4 separate regions of the Homo sapiens genome follow, and regions 2, 3 and 4 are each linked to region 1. Evidence: fine-mapped expression QTL. A gene starts in region 1. Each other region holds a variant in brackets. All regions are shown on one strand. Distances are between the middles of the regions.

Region 1 (5,151 bases):
GATTTCCAATTTCATCCATGTCCCTACAAAGGACATGAACTCATCATTTTTTATGGCTGCATAGTATTCCATGGTGTATATGTGCCACATTTTCTTAATCCAGTCTATCATTGTTGGACATTTGGGTTGGTTCCAAGTCTTTGCTATTGTGAATAATGCCGCAATAAACATACGTGTGCATGTGTCTTTATAGCAGCATGATTTATAGTCCTTTGGGTATATACCCAGTAATGGGATGGCTGGGTCAAATGGTATTTCTAGTTCTAGATCCCTGAGGAATCGCCACACTGACTTCCACAATGGTTGAACTAGACACTCCTGTTTTTAAAACCATCAGATCTTGTAAGACTCATTCACTACCACGAGAACAGTGTAGGAAAGACCCACCCCCATAATTCAATCACTCCCACTGGGTTCCTCCCACGACACGTGGGAATTGTGAGAGTTACAATTCAAGATGAGATTTGGGTGGGGACACAGCCAAACCATATAAGATGAGGTGCAGAGGATGCCTGGGCGACTAAATCAATGGTTTCCAAAGGATTTAATGTAATGCCCTTAAGTAGTTTTTTTCTCCCAAGGTAGTTTCTTTGAAGTTAAGCAGCATGAGACTTCCAGGTTGGTGGATGAAGAACCAGGGAAAGATAGAAACTGCCTTTTTTATAATGTAGGGCTCAGTTAAGTATTCAAAGTTCCAAGGAGGCAATTCAGGCCCCCATTTCACACCTTTCACTGTTAGAGAGCAGAGCTCCTATCCATCCCAGGCCCTTCCACTTTGTAGATCAATTGCTCTATCTTTTGGCAGCTTCAACAAAGCCCTGTCTTATGAAAATGCTTTATTGTTCAGATCAGGGACCTGGTAGTAAAAATTAACTATAAAATACTTTTTTTTCTATTATGCAAGTAATGGGTAGCCTTTTTAAAAATTGGAAACATAGAGAAAAAAGTTTATTCCTAACAACCGGAGCCTCAGTGGATTAAAATTACTCAGGTTTCTCACTGATGCTACATGCCCATTGAACGTCAGGTGGGGACTCTGCACTGCTTTAGTCTCACTCTGGATACTGGCTGACAGACCACAGCTTTCTAGAATATTGCGGCCGAGGAAAAGAAAGCTTTGCGGCATCTCATACATCTCATATTGCTGCTGCAGAAGTGACAGTCACTTTTCCTCTTAAACCTCTAGTCAAAACTTGTAACCATGCCTCCACTTAACAAGAGGTTTGGAAAGTGCAATTCTGCCATGTAGGGAAAGGTATATGAACAGTGGTAAGGGCTACCACACTGGAGAATAGCTCCTTTCATCTGCCTCCCTTTGCAGCCTGCGTCCCTAGTCCATGCGCTCTACTGCTCCAGTGCCCACCACTGCTTGACTCTGCCTTTGTGTGTGTCAGTTCACATTATCAAGAAGGACCATGACTGGTAGCTCTACGGATGGAGGACCCTTTTGTAGCAGGTGTTCACCCTGTGCCCAAGCCGCAGTGCCTAGAAGAGTGGGGATGGGTCTGTGGCTCCTATCAGGCTGCAGGAGTTGCGGAGACAGAAAAAGTATTTCTAGGACTCCCATTTGGCCTTGCAGTCTCTACACATCCTTGGCAATTTCTCCCATCTTGGCTTCTCCTTCTTATCACTTTGGTCCACATACGGGGACAGCGTCTAAGTTCTTTCTGACCACCTCCTCAGTCCTAGAAAAACCAGACTTGGTTAAGTACCAGAGCACAGAAGGCATTTAGTGCTGCTCTGCTCCCAAGTCATCTATTAGTTTCACTTTAGCCAGCCATACCTCCTTGGTTACATATGAAGCATCTGTATATAACTTAGTATCATGCTTTTTCACATTATATTTTGATTTTTATCGGACCGGAAACCCTAAATCCACAAGCATAACAACAAGATCACATTTGGGCTTTTTCATTTCTGTAACCAGAGGATTGAACGCTAGTTTTGTAGTAAGACTTCAATTCTATTTATCCGTCCAGGCTTAAGGGTTCCTGTTCTTCTTTTTAAGTCATTAAATTGTATCAGACAAGGGGGAAAACGCGTGTGTGACTTTCCCTAAGGTAAGATGGGCTTAAGGGATATTGAAACCAGGGCAGAGAAATGTTTTCTGTGACCCACCAGTCAGGGCAAGGCATAGAAGGAGCAATGACTTATTCATTAGCCCAGATAGAAGGCCAGTCTTTTTCAGGCTGCGGCGCAGAGACGCCAGGCTCAAAGGGCAGGAGGGCCGTCTGCAGGCAGCGCCGCCGCGGCTACCTGGAAGCCCAGCAAGTCACCTGAGTCCTGCGGGTGCCTGGGCTGCCAATCTGCAGCGACCCGTCCGCAGCCCCCGGGGGCAGGAACACCAACCCCGGGACAGGAGGACGTCCTCGGCCCGCTGACTAGGGATCCGCCAGCGGGTGCCGCTGAGCCACATCCCCGCAGTTGGCGCCAGCATCCAGGTACCGCGCGCCACAGCACCTGCCTGGGCGTTCCCGCGCTTGGGGCGGGGCTTCCCGCGTCCCCTTTAAGAGGCCGCATCACCCGCCCTTGACGTCAGAGTGTTTCTCCGCAAGAGCCCGTGTCCCGCTAGGCTCCGCGCCCTCGCGCCCATAGCCCCGGCGGCGGCACGACCAGAGGCGGCCAGGGGAGCGCGCCGCCCCGCTCGGCCCTCCAGTCCCCCTCCGCCTCCTCCCTCCCGCACAGCAGCCGCCAGCGCGGCCTCCTGCACCATGTCGGTGGCCGGCCTCAAGAAGCAGTTCCATAAAGCCACTCAGGTAAGGCGCGCGGCAGGTGCGTCCCGGGGCAGTCCGGGGCGAAGCTGCGAGGGGCGCGCTCGGCGCTGGCCGTCCGGCGGCAGCTTGGGGAGTTCGGCACCGAGCCTCGCCCGCGCCGGCCGCGCCCCGCCTCGCAAGCCAAGGCGGCGGCTCGGGGCATCCCCGGTCTGGGCGTCCACCCTCGGTCCCCCGCCCCCGGCTTGGTGCGCGCTGCCTTCCCGCGGGTCCCCGGCGTCCTGCCTGGTAGCGCTGCTCGCCGCCCCCGCATCATCTCGCGCCCGTGCTGCAGGAAGGGGACCGCGGCTGCACTGCTGCCGCGGCGCGCAGGTGCCTTGGCGGCGCGGTGGGAGATTATGTAAAGTCGCCTCTTCACGGGTGACCTTGCGGAGTCGGTGCACCCGGCTTTCCCGGGATGTGTTGGCATGAGCGGTGGCCGCACTGGGGGTGGCGGGGCGGAGGCCGGCGGTTTGCGCTCCTCTCCCTTACCCTGTTGTCAGAACCCTCCTTCCCCGCCGCCCGCAGGCTCCAGGGGAATGGAAGGCTGGGGTCTTCCTTTAGGGACCCGCATACATTAACTTTTACCTGGAGAACTCGGTCGTGAAACTCCTTTGAGGCCAGGGCATGACAAACAGTCTGCGGGTCTTAAATATTTCCCTAAAACAACCAAATTGTTGAAGACTTAAAATCATCATGTATTTTAAATTGTTTTTAATAAATCTTTGGCATCTTGGATGTGCCCATTTTTCTTTATGGGGTTAATAAGCTGTGACTGTAATAAAACTGATTAATTTAGATTCTAATAATTAAAATCATTGGACTCAAAGAATTTTACATAGGGGCAAGTAAGCGAATACTTACGCTGTGACCTATTTCTTACATAATGTGTGTGATTACTACTTTTTTATCCTTCTGAAATAGGTTCAAATTTATGGGATCTTTAAGGATTTTGATGACTTACCGCGAAATGTTTTTCATGATTTGGTGTTAAATAGTTTTTCATAGGTTAGCCTTAATTAACGAGCTTTCTCATAATTTCTCGGAAGTAGTGAGGTTTTTCCTAGGCTACCACAGTGGCAGCCTTGTTATGAACCACATCCAGAAAAGGTGAGGGTTGTGTTTTACAGAACCTTGGTTAACTTAGGGTGACAGATGCAGCATGTAATTCCCGTCGTGTGTGTGTTTGCACGCATCTGCATCATCTTCATCACACATTCTTGCCTTTATAGAATCAATTATACCTGTCAACTTAGGAAATCAAGAAAAGTAAGACTATTTCTGTAAAAATGTTTCTTAATGTAATTATTTTTGCTTTTCTATTATAATTGGAGTTATCTGTGACCTCTCTGCCAGACATGTTTATGAAAGTAAGTGATTTGTTTGTTGATGTAGTTTGGAAGGCTTCTAATAACTTTATACTGCAAGTTCTTTCAGGTTTACAGAACCAAGCATATGTGCTGCCCAGGAATTCTGTGGCAGGACTTCTTCGATATTACTAACCTTTTTGATTGCTCTACTGGTCACTTCTCTATAGCATATCTCAGCACTGCGTTTACCAACACATCTTTTTTCCACTTGGATTCTAAAGATTTCTTTTGCAAAGCTTAGTGCCCTCAAAGGCAATTAAGAGTCTTGGCTTTGGAGTGGGAAAGGCTAAGGTTTGAATCCTGCCTCTGCTGCTTCTGACCTTGAGAGAGTATTTAACTTCTGAACCTGTCCATGCTGAAGTGATGATAATTTCCGTTGTCTCTTCAGGGTTGAGGTGAAGAGAAACGAGTGTGTAGAACACACGTATAAAGTGTTCAATAAATTATAGTTATTGACATAAAGGATATTTTTATTAGTATAAAATACTATCCCTTATGCTGTGAAGAAGTTACCCAAGCTAGACCTTTTAGTTTTTCCAACTTAAAAAATAGAGCGCTCCATTTCCGCTAAATCTTGAAGTTCTGTGTCGCCCTAAAGTGTAGAAAAAATAATTTAAACTGCGTTAGGAAAGAACTTAAAAGGTTGGAGAAGGTCGGCATGTGATGCGATACGGTTAATGTTTATCACACCGAATCCAAATGCAGAATCACTGCGTCATTGTCTTCCTTTTACTGAAAAGCCTTTTATTTGAAAGGTGAAGCAGCACGTAGTCTCTTATCCATAATTTAGTGTAGCACACTCTTAGAAAGTCTAAGGCACAGGTGACTGTTCTGTGCATATGTATATTTAGGAGAGTATGTAAAGCCCATGTTAATGTTTGCATGTGACAAAAAAATTAGAGAAATAGTCCTGTCCTACTTTTGTAGCCATTTTTTTCCATCAGGTCCGTGAACCTGATGTTATCTACAGAGAAGCTTTAGACCTAGAATTACTTCCTTTTGAGAACTGATGTGCTGGATAATATAGCCTG
Region 2 (5,151 bases), 150 kb after region 1:
CTTTATTTCTTTCTCTTGCCTGATTGTCTTGGCCAGCACTTCCAATACTATGTTGAATAGGAGTGGTGAGAGAGGGCATCCTTATCTTGTGCCGGTTTTCAAAGTGAATGCTGCCAGCTTTTTGCCCATTCAATATGATATTGGCTGTGGGTTTGTCATAAATAGCTCTTATTATTTTGAGATAGGTTCAATCAATACCTGGTTTATTAAGTGTTTTAGCATGAAGGAGTGTTGAATTTTACAAAGGCCTTTTCTGCATCTATTGAAGATACTCTCCTAAATTTTAAATAACAGGTCAAACATGATCTAAGTTGCTCTAAATATGACGTGAATTGATGGTAATTCAACAAAGTGCAAAATTTTCAGGAAACTATAGTTCTTTGGGAAATTTCACTTAGACTTCAGAAAATTAAATCTCACTGAAGATTTCAATATGCTGTGTAAGGAGAGGAACCAAAACAAAAGGACAAAAACAGTTTTTTAAATAAGTGCACACTTAGGCTTACTTAGAGAACGGGATGTTTTTATTAGCAGATTTGGGACTTGAGGCATGCAAAACTTTCAGAGAGAGCCATATGTTCTTATGCATGCCAGCCTTGCGACAGTCACGATTCTGTGGTTCTGCAGATGAAAGCAAAACGTTGTATAGTCCTTGTGGCAGGAATGATACCTTTTCCTAAAGCAGCGTCCTTTGGTTATGCCAAGCTGTTATTTGGCTGAGTGGCTTTGCACTAAATATATCTAGAGCGATGTTTTAAAATTATAAATCTTATGTTTCTCCCTGCTATGGACTGAATGTTTGTGTTCCCCCAAATATACGTTGAAGCCCTAACCCCTAATGTGATGGTATTTGGAGATGGGGCCCTTGGGAGGTGTTTAAAGTTATATGAGTTCGTGAGGGTAGAACCCTGCTGATGGAATTTGTGCCCTTAAAAGAAGAGGAAGAGGAAAAGGGAGGGAGGTGGGGGGAGGTAGGGAAGAGAGAGAGAGAGAAAGAGAGAGAGAGAGACAGACAGAGAGAGAGAGAGAGCATCTTTCTCTCTCCACACAACCACAGAGGAAGGTTTATGTGAGGACACAGTGAGAAGGCAAAGGCAGCGTCATGCAAGCCAGGAATTGAGCGTTCACCAAAAACCAACCATGTTGGCACTCTTATCTTGGGCTTCTAGTTCTAGAACCACAAGAAGGTAAAATTCTATTGTTTAAGCTTACCCGGTCTCTGGTATTTTGTTATGACAGCCCAAGCTGACTGATAGACTCCCTCATCGCTGTTAGGATGGAAGCCTTAGTTTAGTCCAAAGGGGCTTGCAGGTTCTGGCTTTTGCCAGTGTCTTCAGCTTCATCTCAAGTGCTCTCTCCCTCCCTCTCTGATTTGCATCGGTGCTGGTCTCTTGGAGGAGCTATGCTTTCCCTATTTACCCCCTGGGCTTTTGGACATCCTCCTCACAGTATCCTCAGTGCCGGACATACAAAAGACATTCAGTGACTATTTTTAAATGAACAAGTGGTAGAAATTAGAAGGTAGTCAGGTTCTGACCTGTGATGGCAGAGGAGGAGATACTGTGATAGGGAAACAAGCATATAAAAAAGGCAACACATTTGACTGTTGTGTCTGATCATGACTGTTTTAAATGACATGAGTGTTGAGTAGGCCAACTCACTTTCACTCTTTTTTTGGACTTCATCATATTCTCAACAACAATCATAACAGCACATTAATATTACCCTTTAAAAAATAACCTGTTTAAGGTAGTACTGTTGGAGATGGTGACCGGAGTTGTTGCTAATTACTCTTTTTTTCTGTAACTGCCTTTTGCCCTCAAGGTTTGCCACTGGAAGAGGCATATCTGGTGGGAAAGAGGAAAAGACAAATGCATGGTGGTTCAGGGGAATGATATCAAAGAGAATTAATTAGAAATTGGAAGTTAAAGGAAGGATAAGCAGATCAAATTAGTATAGAGGTTGGTATACTGTTCCACTGCCTCCTTGTCTGTTAATGTATTCTGGAGCATATATCAGGCCTACATTAGGCACTGGGAAAGAGGGATGAACAAGATCAAAATCACTGCCTTGCAGGAACTCAGAAAGTTTGTAGAGGCATTCATATAAACAACGATAGTTTAAAATACTGTCTAACAAGTGCTGAATGGTTAGGCACAGGGGCCATGGGAGCACAGAGGGGTTTGGAAGTCTTCATGGGGAATGGTATAATTGGCCTAGTGATAATATGATTCAATAGGCCTATAGGCAAAGGAAGGAGATTATGGATTTATTATTGAAGGACAGTAAAACCTAATTGATTTTAATCAATTCTTGTTCATTTCCAAGAAAATGTTCACCAACAGCTTTTAGCAATATAAACAGTTATGAGAAGCAAATTTTAAAAAATTTAAAAGATTTTTGCACACTGAAGTTGCATATTGATTATAGCCAACCCAAATAGATCCTTTCCTGGGAACAGAAGTTTGAGTGGGTTTGGAATCAGGGGACCTGGGTTTCAGTCCTCTCTCTGTAACACCTGGCTGTCTGACCATAGCATACCTGGTCACTTCACTCCCCACGTCCTTGGCAGTTCTTACTGCTGCTGCCTTCCCCACTCTTCAGCACAAGTGTGTACCCGTGGGATGATATCTTCCCATCAAATCATAAGTTTAATTCTACAGTGATTCTTTTTTGATGGGTGGTCAGACCTCCTCTTTCCTACAACCCTCACCCCATGTCAGAAATATAATCCTTCATTTTGCCAAAGCAAAACGAAGTTAGACTGCATATGCTAATGAATGTGTTTATTTCCCTCTCACATTCTCTTTTTTTAAATTTTTTTTATTTTTTTCATTTTTTTATTATTATACTTTAAGTTTTAGGGTACATGTGCACAATGTGCAGGTTAGTTACATATGTATACATGTGACATGCTGGTGTGCTGCACCCACTAACTTGTCATCTAGCATTAGGTATATCTCCCAATGCTATCCCTACCCATCTCACACCAGTTAGAATGGCAATCATTAAAAAGTCAGGAAACAACAGGTGCTGGAGAGGATGTGGAGAAATAGGAACACTTTTACACTGTTGGTGGGACTGTAAACTAGTTCAACCATTGTGGAAGTCAGTGTGGC[A/G]ATTCCTCAGGGATCTAGAACTAGAAATACCATTTGACCCAGCCATCCCATTACTGGGTATATACCCAAAGGACTATAAATCATGCTGTTATAAAGACACATGCACACATGTGTTTATTGCGGCACTATTCACAATAGCAAAGACTTGGAACCAATCCAAATGTCCAACAATGATAGACTGGATTAAGAAAATGCGGCACATATACACCATGGAATACTATGCAGCTATAAAAAATGATGAGTTCATGTCCTTTGTAGGGACATGGATGAAATTGGAAATCATCATTCTCAGTAAACTATCGCAAGAACAAAAAAACCAAACACTGCATATTCTCACTGATAGGTGGGAATTGAACAATGAGAACACATGGCCTCTCACATTCTCTTACTTAACCTCTGCTTGCCAGCTTAGTGAACCAGTGTACTAAAGAACTCTGGTAACATGAGTTGATTTGATAAGAAAACTTAATATAGGTCCCTTCTAGAAAATGCACTCTCAGTCGAGAATTGCATTTTGAAATATAAATCTCAAGTTCATCACTCCAGTTCATCACTCCATAACAGGTGCCCGCAGGCACATTATTTTGCTTTTCAAGATCATCTGGAATGATGCCATTTAGACTAATTGCCCTCAACCCTTTAATTTACCTGGATTTTTGGAAAGTATCTTTGTTTCCTCATTCAGCCACATGTTTGTCTGAGGTAGAAGCATTTTGGAAGTTTACAGTCACCACATCCATGAGTTTTCATGTGATGTCACCTTGTTCTTAGGTAACAGGACAAATATTGATGCTCATAGATTGACACTAATCTCTTGCATTGGTAAAGTACTTTACAATTGACAAAGCACTTACTCAATTATACTGTACAGTCTTCACATAATTTCGTGTATAACTGTCCTGTGAGGTAGCTTTTAGTTATCCATATATTAGAAAAGTTAAGAGGTAAGACATTTTGCCCACAGTTTTCAACCTAGTAAGTAGCACACAATGTCCATTAACAGTTGAATGAATAAACAAAATATGGATTATCCATACAATGAAATATTATTCAGCCATAAAAGGAATGAAGCAGTGATACATGTCACAACATGAGGAACCTTGAAAACATAATGCTATGTGAAACAAGCCAGAGACAAAACACCACATAATTATATTATTTCATTTATATAAAATGTCCATAGTAGGTAAATCCATAGAGACAGAAGTATATGTGTGGTTACCAAGGTTGGAATGGAGTTGGGGGAAGGAGCCTGGGCAGTGAAGGCTGTAAAAAAATTCTTTTTGGTATGATGAAAGCAGTGTAATATTTGAGTATGGTGATGATTACATAACTCTGTAAATACACTAAAAATCACTGGATTGTGTACTTTAAACGGGTGAACTTTATGGGATATAAATGATATCTTTACAAAGTAATGCATTCTTCTTTCCCCTACATTCCAGAACTAAAGGACAAGTAACTTCAAAAGTGCTGCCTCCGGGCTCCCTTCCTGGTACCTATTCTGCTTCACTTTTGCCACATCATGAGAAGGGGTAACCAGTCTCTTAAGTCTTTTCTTTCTAAATATTCCTCTGTCTCTTCCTCTCAGGTCTCACTTGAACAACTAAAGGGGCAGCCTCCTAGAATCCTGGTATTCACTACCTACCACTCACTGGCAGATGTTGACATTAGCACATTACTAAGCCTAAGCAGAATTAAGAGAAAAGGAAGCCATTAGTGCCAGGTTGGAATCCTGCAATAGGACTTAGCACCTGTCCTCAGTTTAATGTATGAGTATAAGCACCCTGAATCTATAGAAAATCCAGAAATGTCCATTATTTATAAAATGCTCCCTATATATTTGTGTTTGTGCATGTGTGAGATTTGTATTTATGTAAGAGTATGACATATAGCTACAGTTGACCCTTGAACAATACTTACTTGAACTGTGGGGTCCACTTATACATGAATTTTTTTTTTCAACCAAACGTGGGTGGAATATAGAATATTCATGGGATGTGAGCCCTGCCTATGCAGAGGACCAACTTTT
Region 3 (5,151 bases), 21 kb before region 1:
GAGATGGTGCCTGGCAGTTCCTCCTCTGATTATCCAGGGAAGACAGAAAAAGAGGAAAACAGGAGACAAGAAGTAAAGCTTAGAACAGAGAGGTAACCATTAACCAGTAAGGGCTAATAGATGAGTCCAGAGAAAAGATAACAAAGGAGGCAAGGAGAGCATGGTAAGCCATGGTAGGGGTGAGGGAAAGATATTGAAGATTGAACTCCACCAGTGTGGGATAATGTTTGTATGTGGACTGTGTTGTGTCTCAGGTTCAGGTTGTTTAAGCAGCCTAGTGACCCAGATGGTCCCCTCCTTAGTGTCTGGTTTTGTCAGGTTGTAACTTGGCTTTTTCAGTTCCCTAATATCTCACATTATCTCCTCTTCCTCCTAGGCCTTAATCATGTCTTACTTTTTTACCTCCCAATTGGTTGATATTGAATTCTTATTAAATAAAAATGTACTCTTTACTCTTGAGTTAAAATTCTGATGGGGGAAGAATGTATACACAGAAATAATGTCACAACTATTTATGTTAATTAAAGGAAATACAGAGCAAGGTCAACTGAGATATTCCGGAGAAGGGAGTTTCCTTAGGGTATTGCCGCATGGACATACGTGCTCACTGTGGCACAGAAACACCTGCAGATTTTTCTTTCACGTAAGACTCAGAGGCAAAGTTACTGTAATCAAGAATATGTTGTTAAGAAGGCCTGGTATTAATACTGTCATTGGTAAGCATTTTGTAACTTATATAAAGCAGACCTTGGGTTTTCAGGACACTTCATCTGCTAATTGTCAACAAAATACAGCTGAGGTTGCAATGTGTCAGCAAGAATGTCAAGGAGGAAGTCAGAGGGTCAAATCAGCTGGGGCTTGGCCCATTTACCCTAGGTGGTGTTCTTAAAGACTCAGTGGTTCATTCTGCTTGGCAGCTTAAAGAGCCATTGAGGTTCAGAACTAAAAATGTGTGGGCCAGGAAGAGGGCAGTGAATGACTGGGACCAACTTGCCAGTGTCTCCCAGGGGCACCGGCTCAGATAACTGGAAGTCTGGAAGCTTTCTCATACGCAGCCAGTCCCGTAAGCAGCTCTTGGCAAGACTAAAAAAAAAAAAAAAAAAAAGAAAGAAAAAAAGAAAAGAGCTTCCCACTTGTGTTTCTTAACTGTAACTGTGCCTAAGAATCACGTGGTGCTTGTCAAAGTGCATATTCCTGAGCCCTACTCACAGGCACTTACACGCTCCTTTCGGGGTTGGGCCCAGAGATCAGCATTTTCACAGGCACACCAGGTATTCCAGAATAAGATGGTCTGTGGAGCACGTTTTCAGAAATGCTGCCTTAAAGCCTTCCACGTGTCCCAGCTGTCTAATCACTGTATGAGGGTCCATGATTTAATCTATTTTCAAAGACAGGGGTCTGGAAGTCGTTTTTCTCCTCCCACATTCAATCTGTCATCTCCTTCTGCCACTGTGTTCTAACATTTCCCTTAAGTTTGGGCCCTCTCCTCAAGCTCCTCACTGAAAAGCACTGTCTAAGCTGGATGCATTTCACACGAGAGCTTCTGTGGTTGGACTGCTTAAGTTAAACCAGCCTCCACGAGGGTGTCCAGCAGAGAGGTGCACCTGAGGGATTAGGGCAACAACCTAACTCGGGCCTCAGTTACTGCAGAATTCAATTTGCCAGAGGTGCCAACGTGAAGACCAAAGGTTGAGTCTTACACAGGTCTTCCTGTTTTGTTTCTTTAAACCTTGAACGTTTTGCCAATGTTTTTAAATGGGGGGAATTTCTCATAGACATCCAGATTTCTGGGTGTTCTTAGAATATCAGATCTGGCTAGTTTGGCCAGTTTCCCTAAGGGCAACAGTCAGCTGGGTTGAGGAGAGGCTGCCCTCTTGAGACGCTGTACCAGCCTCCCCAAGCAGAGGTACATATT[G/T]TCTGAAGATAAGAAAGCTAACATGCTAAAGCCTGATCTTTCAAGGCCCTTGACCCAATTTTGTATTTGCAATTCTGTGTTGTTTTCTTAAAGAGGCCTCCACAATTGTATACATTTCTGACTCCAGGAAACCTGGATCTTCTCCTGCAGCTCTGCTCTATGGACTCCCCACACTGAGGTCAAGGGTGGCTGCCATTTATCATAAGACTTGCCAGTGGATTTTCTTTAAGTAGAGAAACATTTCTCTGAACTCGTGGGTCTACAGAAACAAACAAAAGAAGGCCTCAGATTTCATGAATAAGGGGAGAGATCCTATCTCTTTGTGGATGTGATCTGGCCTGCATCCCTGGCCTTTGATTTCATGATCCCTGGCTGCATCGAGGTCTCCATCTACAATTCATGATTCCTTAAATTCTATGGAGTTGGAACAACCTTTTTGTGCATAGTCCTGCTTGCTTTCTTCTCCATTTCTTAAAAGACAGATTTGAATCCCATCCATTTAATCCTCATTTGGTAAAGTGAGGCTGGGAATCACCATGGTGAAGAAAAAGAAAAAGTAGAATCTGCCCATAGAAAGAGAATGAGTTGTACATCTTGCTCTTTTGGAATGGGATGTCCTGTGGGAAAGGACTGGATCATTTCTGTAATTTTTAATGCAACTGTTTGCAGGCATAAATGCTCACTGAGAGCTCAATAGATATTCACTGATGATAAGACATGTATAAAACAGATTACAGCGTATGTTCTTCAGTTACCTTCTAGGGTGTTTTTTTGTATTGGTCACTGCTTGAACAGATCCTTCTATTCCACCATATTAGAGCTCTGTGGAAATACAAATATTTTTGTTGTAACAACATGCTGTAATATTGGGAATTCAGTCATTGCCTTTTCCCTCCCAAGATACTTTTTGCTTTACTTTGATGTTTCTTGTGTTGTTCACAATGCTGTTTTAAAGCCTCATTTTTCACTCTCAAGATCGTTAAGGACTCGGCGATGTTTTCTGTGAATATATTTATTACTCAGGCGCCATGTCTCTGCTTCTCCCCTGGAAAGGAGGAAAAGTGGCATACATTATAGATCATCTGGCAGGGAGTCTTCCCGAATGATTTATTTGAAGCTTATTTTAACATTCTCCATTTGTACAGACTGTTAGTCTTCTCTTGTTTCTAGATAACGTCTTATTAAAAGGAAACACCTGTTTAAACATGTAAAAATAAGACTAAATCTAAACAAAAGGAGTTTTTGGTGAATATGGCATTTGCCATATATACTTTCTAATTTTTCCTGCGTGGAAGTGGGCTGGGGGATGTGATTTATTACTCTGGATCAGACCGATTAGCTACTTTTTCTACAAAATAATTGGGTGAAAGCCAGTGTCCACCAGGCCAGTGTGGTTTATGGGTCATGGCTATAGAACTAGGAAGATGTTGATTATTTTAAAGATATCATTAATAACATAAGCCTAATTTTTCAGTAGTTTTCCATCTAGTTATATTTTGCCTACTTAAATGTCAATCGAATTTTTTTTTTATATTTATTCTGGCCCTCTCTGTGACTGTAGCCCAGTTTCGAATCATTTCTAGTCCTAAGATCATATTAAGATGATTCCAGACTTATGCCTTCGATGTCTGAAAGAATCAACCAGAAATCCTGAAAATCATATTACAAGAAAGGAAAATGATAGGCCAATTACTCTTAGGAACTTAGTTGCAAAAATCCTAAGCAAAATATTAGTAAATCTAATCCATCAATACATAAAATGTAAATATACAATACAACCAAGTTGTAGTTTTCCCAGGAATGCAATGTTATTCAGATATTTGAAAATCACTCAACCACACAATAAAGGAGAAAAAAGTTTGACTATATCAATAGATGCAGCGAAAATATTTGATGAAATTCCACCATGTTAATAATAAACTCTTAGCAAACTAGTAGTAGATAGAAATTTCTTAAATAGAATAAAAGCTACCAAGAAAACAGGATAATAAACAGAGTACTTAATGAGAAAATATTGAAAACATCTTTCTGAGATTAAAAAAATAAAGGATGCTTGCTATTTCCACTGTTACAGTGCTGTAAGTCAAGAAAAAGAAAGAAAACATTGGAAAGGGAACAGTAACTGCCATTCATGCACCCCATTTGCATACTAAATGTTTGCATTCATAGAAATCCAAAATAATCTTTAGATCAACTATTACAATTAGCAAATGGATTTATCAAGGCCATTGCATAAAAGCTCAGTATATAAAATATGTTTTTATATACTAGCTCAAACAAAAATTTGAACGTACCTAAAAGCAGAGCTAACAAAAGATAAACCAGAATGCAGCATGGAGAGATAAAAGGGTGAAAAATACAAAGGGGAAGATAAAATACCTACAGAATAGAGTGAAAAAGATCTAAGCTATGAGTAATTTTAGTCCTAGAGAGAACGTGACAGAAACAGTTCTAATTGAACAGATCATGGCTAAGAAATTTCCAACACTGGTGAAAGAAATCAAGACACAGACTAAAAAGTCCTATAAACTATAAATAAGATAAATAAAAAGAGATCCATACCTATGCATCACAATTAAATGGCTGTAAACAAATAACAAAGAGAAAAATCTTAAAAGCAGCCAGGAGGCGGAGTGAAGGAGGAATGAAGACAAATTATGAAAATTAGAGTGAGCTGACTTTGTATGAAAAATAATGGCAGCCTGAAGATAATGAGAAAATATCTTTAAAGTACTTTAAAAAACTGCCAATCTAAAATTCTGTTTTCATCCTCAAAAAAAGCAATTGAAATGAAGACATTTTCAGATGAGCAAAAACAGTGGATTTATCACCAGCAAACCTATTCTTACGAAAACACCAAAGGATATTGTTTAGGCAGAATAAAAATGTTCACAGATGGAAGGTGGGAGACCTAGGAAAAATGAAGAGCAATAGAAGGGGAAATTTATGAATCAATCTGCATGAATATTGGCTGTATGAAACAATAATAAAAGCGTCTTATAGACATAAGTCAGAAGTTGGGTAAATGGAGTTAAATTATGCTAGAGTCCTTGCCTTGTCCAAGAGAACAATATCAATAAACATGACATTCTAATCAGTTAAAAATATGTTTTGCAATATCAAGGGTAATTATTAAAAGAATAGAAAAGGATTTATTTGTAACTTTGAACCTAATATTAGAAAAAATGAAATAATAAACATTGAGTCCATCTAAAACACGTTAAGAAAATCAAGGA
Region 4 (5,151 bases), 46 kb after region 1:
TGCTTCCATAGTAAATAAGGACACTAGAATTGGGTGTCCAGGCCACTTGTGAGCAAAGAACCTCCTATTTCCAGATTCGGCGCCACCTGTGGGATACTCATGTTTCATCATAGGTGTCCACAACTTTATTCTTTTAATACCTCTACAAAGACCAAAAAAAAAGTGATACCAATTAAAAAATGTGGAAGAATATTAATTGGGATTGAACAGTACCTGTGGTTTTCTCATGTGACCCTGGGTTTGTCTTATTCTCTGAGAAAGTGGGCTGGTAGGTAGGTGCTCTTGATGTCCTTAATTTCAAAATGAGGAAGTCAGAGCAGGCACGGTAAGTAAAGAATAATGGATCCTGAGCCTCACCTTTTGGTCACTCCGTTGGCAGGGTATGTGCTTGGGGCATGAAAACCAAGACTCAAAGACTGCCAATCCTCTGCCGCAGTTTTTGAGAGTAAGAACTATGCTTGCTGTAATATGGCAGAATGAAATTATACCTGCTCCTTCCTTGCTTCTTCCTTCCCTTCCTCCCTCCCTTTTCCTTTCGTTTCCTTTCGTTTCCTTTCCTTTCCTTTCCTTTCCTTTCCTTTCCTTTCCTTTCCTTTCCTTTCCTTCCCCTTCCCCTTCCCCTTCCCCTTCCCCTTCCCCTTCCCCTTCCCCTTTCCTATCTTTGCATTCGTTCTGCTTTAGTTCACTGTTTGGAAGGGTGAAATAAAGCCCTGGTTCTGTTCTTTCCCCTTGTCCTTCCATCGGAGTGGGCCCTTTAGTGGTTAAGGGTGAGGGATGAGAAGTTAGTCTCTGGTGTCTAAGGTCCCTACGATACGTCTGAATGTTGCCAGGTGTAGAAGATGTGTCCTGTCCATAGGAGGAGCTTGTGGGAAGCTAGCTGGCGAGGTTCAGAAAGTAGAGTTGTGGGATATGTGGCCTTAGGTGTTGTATACGTATGTAGTTCAAATGGAATTAGATTCTATATAGGGTAGTGTGTAGACTGAGAACAAAATGACCTATCAATCTTAGGGAATGAATTAAGAAGAAGGTTGCCTGTGAAGGACAAGTCAGAGAGAAATCCAGAAGAGATTGATGTTCTGAAAGTTAAGACTGGACAATGTTTCATGAAAAATGTAATCGGAGAATGAAGGTTCAATATGTTTTTTGTTTGCATTTTCTTTTTGCTTGGAAATCATTTCAAATTTACAGAAAAAAATTACAAAGAATACCTGTCCATTTATTTATCTAATTCACCTTTTCTTATATTTAACCCTATTTATAATTTCCTACACACACACACACACACACACACACACACACCACCCACCATATATTTTTCTGAACCATTTTGAGGATATGTTACTATATCATGGTCCTTTACTTCTAATTACCTAAGTATTTATTTCCTAAGAATTGGGATATTCTCTTATACTATAACCGCAGCACTATTATCAACTTGAGTAAATTTAACATTGATACAATTTAAAAAATCAGATCTAATATTTATATTCCAATTAACAAGTTAACCCAATTACATTTTGAATAATATTTTTCTGTCTCATACAGGTTCTAGTCTGGGGTCAAATACTTCATTTTATTTCATTCGTTCGTTTCTTTTAATCTGAAACATTTGCACAGCCTTGGTTTATCTCGTTTTTAAGACTGCATCCTGCCCGTTAAAAATGCAGTGGCTGTCAGTTTGAGGTTGTTGCTGCCTCATGATTAGATTCAGGGTGATGCAATCTCAGTTGGAATATTGCATAGTGATGTGTCCTTGCCAGGATGTCCAACCTGCAGGCACCTTATGCCCATCGGTGGCGATGATTTTTAACATCCTTTCACAGTGTTGTCTAGTTTCCTGATTATATAATTATTGTTTTCTCTTTCTTCCCTTGCAATAAGTGGTCTGTGGGGAGCTACTGTAAGGTCATATAGATATCCTCCTTCTCCTCAAAGTCAGTGCAAGATTTAGCATCCATTGATGATTATTACTGGGTCCAGTCTTCACAGTGATAGGTGCGCAAACATGATTTTCCATCTCCATGCTCTTTCCATGTTTACCATTTAGCCTTTGACATTCTGCTCTAAGCAAGAGTCTCATATAATTTTATTTATTTATTTTTTGTGTGCACTCAAGAGTTCCCATTTTCCGTTGGTTCATAATTTACCACTGTACTCAATTTGAGCCCTCAATCAAATTTGAGTTGGCTAGTGGGGGCCCCTTCAAGATGGCTCCTGTGTCCATGTGGCATGTTCCCATCACTTACTTTTGACAAATTTTTCA[C/G]TTTCTGGCATAACAATGTGATCAGGCTCATCTTGTATATACTCTAGCCCTGGAGCCATCTGTTCCTTTGAGGATCCCAGATTCCTTTTAGTGGAGAAAGGGTATAGGCAGTATGGTCTGTGTTTTCCATTTGCTTCTGTGCTGTGTGAAGTGTTAGGCCCAGGCTTTGGGAACTATCCATTTCTTGGTAGATGTTGGGTCAAGTGGAAATGTTGGGGTACTGAGGAAGAACAATTTTGATTTGCAATTGGTAAATGAGGAATATCTGTTCAGAGTGTGAGTGAGATGAAAATTGTTCTTCTATTTAATTTGTTTGTAAACCTTGGCTAGAGTTGGCCTGACAGATTGTGTCCCTTTCCCTCTGGCCATACTTTTTTTGGGAGGGGGCTGGCCTGCATTTTAATGAACATGCACATTTTGGCACTCTCTCATGCTTGCATTTTTAGTTGTGTTCTCGTCTCACCATGCTCTGTAGGTGCCCCTTTAACATTGGTTCATCCTGTGTGAATGGGCAGGGGGAGGTGGTGAGTGGATGGTATTCTGGTTCCCTTGGTGGGAGCAGCCTGCAGAGGCCAGATAGTCCACATCTGTTGTTGATTGAATCCTGGTCCAGAAGCCCCACTTTATATTGCTGTGTGGAATGAGCAGAATTACTACTGTGGCAACACACAGTTCGTTTTTTACAGTCCACCTCCTTTCATTGCCTCCTAACTTGCAAGTCACCTGATAATTTCTGACACTTTCTTACCAGTATGGAGCTATTTAAAACGCATTCCTACTTTTCTCATCTCATGGGATCCTCTGGACAATACCTTGTGTGATAATCAGGCAGAGATCAATTCTATTTTACAGACAGGGAAACAAGGCAAAGAGAGTACATTTCCAATGGGGAAAGTTAGTCTCTTTTCCTTAGTAGCAAAGAGCTAGTAAGTGGCAGAACCAGAACTTCAACTTGGCACTTCTGCCTCTTTGTGCTTTCTTCTTGTCTTAGTTAAAAACTGAAGAAGAAAAGTAAGCCCTGTGGAAGCAGCTTAGGTACAGGAATTGGCAGGGTAGGAGGTGGGGTAGATTTCTTCCTTCTTAATCAGTTTCCTGTCTGAAGCTTCACATACTGGGGGTATCGTTTTTCAGTGTGAAAGGGAGGCTGAGGTCACTTTGTGTCTTCATGGGAAACCTGTCCCAGGAGGTATGTCTTAAACCCCATGCTTACCTCAAGGCAATTAGAGAAAACCATGTGACAGCATCGGTCTCACTGACTGTGGTTGATGAAGCAGAGCAGAAAAGCTGTTTTCTTCTCCTTGTCCTTTACTTCAGTCTTCCCCATCTCATCTTCCCTACCTGAGCTGATGGACTGTCTTGTGAGGCTGGGGAGGTGTCCACTTGGCTCTTTGGTTTTGGTTCCCAGAGGGAGGCTCTGGCCGCAGGACACAGCAGATGGAGCCTGTGGGAGCCCATGTTTGTGCCTCGGCAGGTGTGGGTCTGGGACGGGTCTGACCTCCACCTGGCACCTGCTTCTTTTATTGCCTCCATATGTCAAGGGGATATGAGCCCATGTGAGTGCTTTCAGATTGCTCTGGCCTGAGGCCATGGTTGGGAATGGCAGGAGCATGTTGCGGGGGACAGGGACCTTTGTGAGGGACAGTTGAGCCACTCTGAGGTTAGAGGACCACACAGCTGCCCCTTCTAGAAGCCTCGCTGGGCCAGAGGTGTGGCTTCATTAAGGTCCTAGTTGGACTGTGTCCTCATCTCTCTCTTATTTCCTGCTCTGTTTTTGATTTTATTTTCTTAAAATCTTCATGCTCATGGATTTTTAAAATGGCAGTAATGATTTTTATTTTTTTAAAGAGTAAAACAATGGCAGTCTAGTGCAGTTACTTTAAGACATATCAGGTAACCTTTACCAGTAAATCGAAGGCCATTGAATAAGGAATGTGTAAGGATCTGTGGACTCCCTGAAATTAGATGCAAAATGTTATATGTTTGTATGAATGCATTTTTTGGAGGAATGGCTCCCATAGCTTTCTGCAGATTCTTGTGGACATTTGACAGTCCCTCTCCAAAGTATGGCCTCCAATATGTCTTCTTCACATTCCTTTGGAGAACTGCCTTTACCTCCCGTGTCTCTCATAGATATCTGAGCACTTTAATTTGTGGAAGAGTCGAGGAAGAGGAGGCCTTGAAAATAGTCTCCTTTCTAACTACCAAATTTGGGGGCTGGCTCAGCTTCCCCTCCCCCATTACTGGTTCCCTGAGCAGGTCTGAGCCAGGATAATCTTCTTTAACCTCCACTTTCTGTCAGGCCCTGGTCGTGTGCTGGATGTACCTCTCCTCATGTAATTGTCACAACTACCCTGTATTGGAGGTGCCAAAGACTGAATAACATGTTTAACTTACTAAATAGAAGAATTGGGACTGCCGGTAAAAACTGCCAGATTCCAAAGCCAGAGTTTTTTCAATACACTCAAGGAATAAAACGTCAGCTGCTGTTTTTATTAGCACTCACCAATGAGACACCATCCTGTCCTGTTCCCTGTTTTCATCCTGCAGCGCCATATATTGCTCCAAAGCTTAGATAGTGCCCAGAGCCCACCTACAGCTCATCTTCCTATGAGGCAGAGAGCTAGCTTGATCGTTGGGGAATAATGGCAGAGCTCTCAGAAGGTGCTGGATCCCTAACCGCTTTGCTGGGTTCTTCATTCCTGGCCCACCCGAGAGCTCTTCTGGAAGTAAAGGCCTGAAACTGTGACCTTCTTGGCTATGGTGAAAAGTAACAGACGTCAAGTGTTAGCAAGCAGACCCTATCTGTTATTTGACTTTTAAAATCACAAACAATAAAGTAATCATTATTACAAGGTATTTTTAATGTCACATTGGCATGAAAAATTTTA

Alleles and levels. Alleles are on the strand shown, and positions count from the first base shown. SD is a standard deviation of normalised expression in the study named. Not every link is listed here.
In carriers of allele G in region 2, the expression in prefrontal cortex of the gene that starts at base 2,535 in region 1 tends to be higher than with A alone (small effect, 0.18 SD a copy in ROSMAP).

What was found. PIP is the estimated chance that this variant, and not a neighbour inherited with it, causes the effect.
Region 2: its variant is the best candidate, but not a certain one, in a credible set for the expression of SH3GL2 in prefrontal cortex (ROSMAP, PIP 0.64).
Region 3: its variant is the best candidate, but not a certain one, in a credible set for the expression of SH3GL2 in lung (TOPMed, PIP 0.87).
Region 4: its variant is the best candidate, but not a certain one, in a credible set for the expression of SH3GL2 in thyroid (GTEx, PIP 0.69).

What each region holds. Positions count from the first base shown.
Region 1 is chr9:17,576,532-17,581,682 of GRCh38, forward strand. It overlaps SH3GL2 (SH3 domain containing GRB2 like 2, endophilin A1), which reads left to right and starts at 2,535. Exons shown (of 9, transcript NM_003026.5): 1 at 2,535-2,756. The coding sequence starts at 2,712. RefSeq lists a silencer at 1,347-1,545.
Region 2 is chr9:17,730,444-17,735,594 of GRCh38, forward strand. All of the region lies in intron 1 of SH3GL2 (SH3 domain containing GRB2 like 2, endophilin A1), which reads left to right. Among named protein-coding and RNA genes, the nearest start is that of SH3GL2, 150 kb to the left of the region's middle. The variant A/G (reference allele first, on the strand shown) is at 3,120.
Region 3 is chr9:17,555,252-17,560,402 of GRCh38, forward strand. It overlaps LOC107987051 (a long non-coding RNA gene), which reads left to right. Exons shown (of 3, transcript XR_001746631.2): 3 at 1-452. Among named protein-coding and RNA genes, the nearest start is that of SH3GL2, 21 kb to the right of the region's middle. The variant G/T (reference allele first, on the strand shown) is at 1,916.
Region 4 is chr9:17,622,439-17,627,589 of GRCh38, forward strand. The region is part of intron 1 of SH3GL2 (SH3 domain containing GRB2 like 2, endophilin A1); the gene reads left to right. Among named protein-coding and RNA genes, the nearest start is that of SH3GL2, 46 kb to the left of the region's middle. The variant C/G (reference allele first, on the strand shown) is at 2,264.